2 separate regions of the Homo sapiens genome follow, and region 1 is linked to region 2. The links come from fine-mapping of genetic effects on plasma protein levels. A gene starts in region 2. The other region holds a variant in brackets. All regions are shown on one strand. Distances are from middle to middle.

Region 1 (2,899 bases), 53 kb after region 2:
CAGCAGGGGGCAAATAGTTTGGGAAGGGGGGAAAGTGGGCTTGCTCTCCTCTGGTCCCATCCTCCACACACATCCCTCTTGACAGTCTGGCTTCCCAACCACTGAAAGGGTGAGTCTGGAGCATGCTTTCAGCCTGAGCCTCTCCCTCCTTGTCCGCCCTGGCTGGGCTGGGCTCCGCCTGCGCTGCCCCATGCCATGCCCATTACCTCCGCGGCTGGTACGGTACCTGCGGTTGGAGTAGCTTCAGAACACAGCGCCCAAGATGGCCAGACAGAGGGAGAAAGGATGGAAAAGGGAAGAGAAAACAGAGCACAAGTGAGACCACAGGACAAGGAAAGCAGGGAAGGTTCCAGCCCAAACCTTATGCAGACGGCGTGGCCAGGTGCTGGCTGCTGGCCTGAGGATGCCAACTGGCATTCAGGGTTCACGGTCAACTCCACCTGAGTCAGGCATGTTCCTACAGAAACCTTTCCACCTGGGCCTTGGAGACCTTTCTAACACACTGTTTCTACCTCGATTCAAGGACTGGACATCTAAAAGGTGGCTGCAGGGACAGTCCACTCAGAGCATTATGTTCCCAGCTCTGTCCTCAACAGCATGTCCTGCTCTGGCTAGGTTGGCATGACCTTTGAGCAGGCTGGGTGACGCTCCATGATGCCAGGAATTGAGGGGATAAGGAGTAGGTGGTGTGGGAGGACACCAACTCCAGTCAAAAGGATGGTTCCTGTCTTTGGGGGAAGATGCTGAATAGTGGGATGGATAGGAGAGAGGGAGCATGTTCAGCTGCACCCACTCCACACCATCGCAACCTTGGAAGGCGGGAACTTTGAAGGATGGAGCCTGGAGCCCCTCTCCTGGTATTCCGTCACTCCAATTCTTCCCCTCCAGTTGGACTTTATGAAGTTAGAAACCCAAGTTTGGACTGAGAGCCCTTTCTTTTTTCTTTCTTTTTCTTTTTTTTTTTTTTTTGGACTGAGAGCCCTAAGTGAAATTCTTGAATTTTCTGCAAAGCCCTAAGTTAAGAAAAAAGCCTCTATTTGTCCTTTTGTCCCCTGGGGCTGCAGAACATTCTCTGTGGTGGTTACTGGGGCTGGACAATAGG[G/A]CTTTGTTATCTGATGTTCTGTATTGGGGTGCACATAGGGAGGGAAGAAGGGGCTCTCTTTATCTATCTATTTGCAGAATTGAGTAATCAAGAAAGTGCATCATGGCCTGGCCTGGCCTGGCCTTTGGTGACAGACACACATCAGCCACTAACCTAAGTCCCCCTGCCCTAATAAACTTCCCGAGTGCCCAGGGGCTTGGGAGAGTGCAGAAGAGCACAGCAGGAGGGAGAGCTGGTTGTGTGACTCACTCCTGGTTTCTGAGACCAGAGAGGGATGCAGAGCGGGCTGTCAGCCTTTCTCTGCTTCTGCCTGGCCCCTCTTCTCCTGCCTCAGCGCTGGTCTACTGGCTAGAGTGGTGGGCTGGGGAAGGATGTGGGCAGCTTGTGAAGCTGCCTGGGATCCCGGGGTGACGCAGCGGGCCTGGTAGCCCCAGAGAAGGCAGCACTGATGCTCTCCTGGAATGCGGGTAGGGGTGGTATTCAGAAGACCCCGTCTGGGCCTGGGCCAGGCCACGGGACCTGACCCTTCTGTGGAAAGCACCAGACACGATGACTTGTCAGCTTCCAGAGTGCCCACTCACATCACCTCTTCTCTGGAGTCTTCCCGTGAAGACTGAATCCCCTTCTCTGCCCAGCCACTGCGCCCCCTCATTTAGACATGCAATTAGATATTCTTATAGATGACTCCCCCTCTAGATGGTGTGAGCTTCTTGTTACCTTTGTATATCCCTTGTGTGTGGCAGTGTCTGGCACCTCACATTGTGGGTACTCAAGAAATGGCTGTTGAATAGACCATTGTATCTCTGGAGACACACGGGGGTCCCCAGCCTTTCCCAGAGGGTGTGCCAGTATTGAGGCTTTTGCAGCCTTGCCTCCTCGAGAGGTCCCAGACTGCACATTCCCCTGATGCCAGTGCGTGTGCGGGTGAGCCTGGAGCCCCCTCTAGTGGAGTCCTCAGGCAGGTGCAGCTCTGGTGGGGCTGAAATGCTGCCAGATGACGCCTGGACCCAGGTGATGAACTCATTTGCTCTTTGTGAAGCTGGCTTGGCAAATGGCTGTTTCCTAACTCCTCCTCCTCTCTGCAGCCTGACAACGCATCCAATTCAGGCTGCAAGGAAGGACCACATTCTCTGCTCTACTCATGATGCCAGTAACAGCGTCATCCTGACGGTTTCCCCTACCTCCTTGAACCCATGTGCCTTCGAAGAAAGAAGGTTGTCCCCAGAGCCCTCATGGGAGCACTCACAATCATATTCCTGCCTCCCTCAAGAGGTGAACACTCACTGTTCTTTGGAGTTCATTATGATTTCTCTCATTTCTCAACTCATGCTCTCTTCCTTATTCCTCTACAAGAAGGAAAGATGATAGATGTCAAGTGACTGAGCAAGTCAGGGCAAGTGGGGACCCAGGTGTGACCACAGTGGTCCAAGGAGAGCTGAGCTCCAGATACAATGCCAGCACCTACCTCTCACACATAAGATGGGTTCTCACCTTCCGAGGGCTTGAGGACTTGCAAGTCTCATTTCCTCTCCATCCCAGGCAGCCAGCTACAGATCTCAGTGTTTCTCTAGGCCTCGGAATTAGCTGGGACCTTTTACCCCAGGGGCTGCTGCCATGCACCTACCTTCATTCGGGGGTGCTGGTGACTCCTCTGTGACGGCTTCCCCAGAGCCCACCTGCGTCCTGGCGCTGAGGGTAAAGCGGTAGCGTGACACGGGGTCCGTTCTTTGCACCGTGAACTTGGTCTGATTGGGAGAGAAGTTTTCCACTATCTGCTTTCCTACTTTGGTCCCGTTA
Region 2 (2,899 bases):
AAACCCACCTTTCTCCAGGGCTGGGGCCATGGCATGCACAACCCCACTCCCTCCTGGCCTCACTGGACCCCCCCCCCCAGGACACAGGCTCAACCCCCAGGGGTCTGGGGCTAGAGGGTGCCCGTCTCCATCCCCAAGTAGCAGCAGGATTCTCCCCTTCCATAGGCACTGCCTTCTCCATGCCCCGCTGCTTCCCAGACCTGAGAGACCCTCTTGGAGAAGGTGACAGGATTCAGCTCTGGACACTCACTGGCTGGGGCTGCCCCCCACCTCCAGCCCATTATGTAAGCCCCACGGTGCTGGGCAGAAGGATTGCCCTCTCTTTCCAGAACTCCCCAGCTCTGCCCCTTCCCTTCCCCATACCATTCTGGCCCCAGCCCCTTTCCTTACTGGAAAGCCAAACTTTGTGCAAATTCTTCCCTCCCACCAGTGAGGATGGGGGGGAGGGATTTGAGGAGAAGCTAAGGTTGGGAGGGGGAAGGGAAGGAAAGGAATTTCAGCCCGGTAGCCCCAGCCTCTCGCCCTTTGGGATGTGACTGGCCTCAGGACTCTCCTCCCCGAGTCCCAGTTCCTGGACAGGCCCTTGCCCAAACTTGTGCTCCACTCTCCCCTCTCTCTTCCACAGCCCCCCTCTCCATCCAGCTGAAGCAAGACTTTGCAAAGAGGTCACCCTGCAGAGGTAGACCCTGGGTGACCTCAAAACTGGGGACTCCGGCTCAATTCCATGCAGGGACTTCTGGGGCAGGCCAGGGCCCAGGGCCTGGCTGTATGGACTGGTCCTGTCCTGGACCGGGTGCCCAGGGCCGGCCCAGGAGAAACTGCCCTCTCCACAGGCAGCTGCCACTGCCCGCTGGCCAACTGGAATTCCTGGACACACTCCTGGGGTCCAGCTTTTCGGCCAGGCTCGGCCTGAGAGAGCCCTGCGGGATGCCGCCCACGTAGACAGGGCGGAGGGGAGCCCCAGCACCCACCCTGGGGCTGAGGGGAGAAGTCAGAACGGCCCCAGCCTGCCAGTGTTCCTGTCCCTGTTCCCTCCCAAGTTACAAGGGGGATATTTACAGGAACTGAGCCGGGAGCCCCGGCCCATAACAGCACGCAGGGAAGTCCCTGGGTTGGAGGAGACAAAAGCGGTTGGCACCTACCTGGGGCGAGAGAAGGGTGTTGGCTGGGGCAGGTGGATGCTGCCCGAGTCGGTGAGCCGGGGCCGGCCGGGCCGCCAGCCCCTGTCTGGGCCGCTGTCCTTTGGGCCCTGGCGGCCTCAGCCGCTCGCTGTCCGGGTGCGGCGGCGGCCGCGGCGGCGGTGGCGGGTGAGGGCGCGTGTGTGTGAGCGCGCCCGGAGCCACTGCAGCATCTCTGCATCAAGATGTGCTCCTCCCTCTCCCAGGCTCCGCTCACTGGCTGGCTCTGGTCCTCAGCCAACGCTCGGGGGCCCTGGAGATGGCTTCCTTCTGCCCCCCTCCCACCCCACTTCCGTCCCCACCCTCCTGGCTTTACCTCATTTGCTGTCATTTAAGGACCAGGGAGCGAGCCCAGCGCGCGTCTTCCATAATGCATGGGCCGCTCATGGACAGGCCGCGGGGCGCTGTCTGGCCCGCCTGCCCTCCCGATCCTGCCCAGCCCCACTTCTAGTCCCCCTGCCCAGGGCTGAAGGGGCAGGAGAGGGGCGGGGTGAAGAGGGAAAAGAAAGTGGCTCTTACTCCTCAAACCCTGGAGACCCATGGAGCCAAAACTCCTGGTTTCCCCAGAAATCCCCTATCCGAGGAAGAGATCCAAATCAGAAATCCCAGCTTGCTGTGTGGGGCAAGTGGCAGGGAGGGGCTGTCTCTGTTGCCCGGTCCACCCCATGTTCCTCTTTATTGTTTCCCTTGTTCAAAAGTAGTTTGAGCTTTTTGTCAAAATATCTAAATATTAGAGGACATTTAAAAATACATAGTGAAAGTCCCTCAACCACTACTCTTAATAAATCTAAGTACATGCCCCCAGGTTTATTATTTTCGTGTATACAATTACATGGGTTAGTAGGGTTATTTCACACAAATGTGATTACATAAAACAGTAGGATTGGCCAAAGACTTTTAACTGTGTAACTGATCTTGGACACTTTTACGCATCAGTACGTTTGGATCCAATCCCATTTTTAAGCAACCAGCAGTGTGATGTCATGAAAAGCTCCCTGGATTAGGGGTCTGGGTGTCTGAAGCATACTCTGGGCTCCACAACCGACTGGCTGTGTGTGCTTGGCTAGGTGCCCTGCCCTCTCTGAGCCTCGCTGGTACCTGAAGGGATTAAAGATGGACACAGTCCTGCCAGCTCTGAGATTCTAAGTGCTCACCCTTGTCAGCGATGCCTTTCTCCTGCCCTGCTCCGGTCACGTGGGGGAGTGCCCAGGAAGGCTGTGGCCCGGAGGCGGAGGGACCAGCCATCTGCGGCACCAGTCGGCCCTGTCAGGCTGTCACTGTTGTCTCACCCCCCTCTGATCTGCCTGCTGTCCAGCTTGCACAGGCAAGACCGGTGAGCAGTCCAGATGCTGCAACAGCTGGCAGGGCCAGGCCAGCCTCCCAGTTTTAAATGGCTATACCTGTCAAGCCTGGATCATGGCTCCATGTCTCCCTGAGTGGAGGAGGTCCTGGGGACCTGGGCCAGAATGAGAGGGTCTGGAAAAGGAGAAGGAGTCGGGGAGGTTCTGCTGCTCAGCCTCCAAGGCTGGAATGTCTGCCCAGGTCCCACATGCGCTCCCCTCCTTTCCTTCTGAGCCCCTCCAAAGGGCTTGCCCAACTTGAGAGATAGTCTTCTTTGTTCCTGATGGGGAGGACTTGGATTTTGCTAATGATGTTTCTTAAATAATGTTGAATGCTGTTATATAGACAGACACATCAACCCCTTGCCAGGATATCTTTCC

Which allele goes with the higher level. Positions count from the first base shown, and alleles are read on the strand shown. Strength reflects both the effect of a copy and how common the allele is.
For the plasma level of the protein whose gene starts at base 1,325 in region 2, allele A in region 1 goes with a lower level than allele G (moderate association).

Evidence for each region. A credible set is the group of variants that fine-mapping cannot tell apart. PIP is the posterior inclusion probability: the model's chance that the variant is causal. Protein levels are from antibody-based Olink assays in UK Biobank. Linkage for the fine-mapping came from a reference panel and not from the study's own genotypes, which makes the PIPs less certain.
Region 1: its variant is the best candidate, but not a certain one, in a credible set for the plasma level of the CNTN2 protein (UK Biobank, PIP 0.90).

The regions. Positions count from the first base shown.
Region 1 is chr1:204,988,634-204,991,532 of GRCh38, reverse strand. It overlaps NFASC (neurofascin), which reads right to left. Exons shown (of 30, transcript NM_001005388.3): 23 at 2,727-2,899; 24 at 227-241. Among named protein-coding and RNA genes, the nearest start is that of CNTN2, 53 kb to the left of the region's middle. RefSeq lists an enhancer at 1,809-1,898. The variant G/A (reference allele first, on the strand shown) is at 1,103.
Region 2 is chr1:205,041,638-205,044,536 of GRCh38, reverse strand. CNTN2 (contactin 2) reads right to left here and starts at 1,325. Exons shown (of 23, transcript NM_005076.5): 1 at 1,143-1,325. RefSeq lists cis regulatory regions at 1,467, 1,559 and enhancers at 1,395-1,539, 1,487-1,631.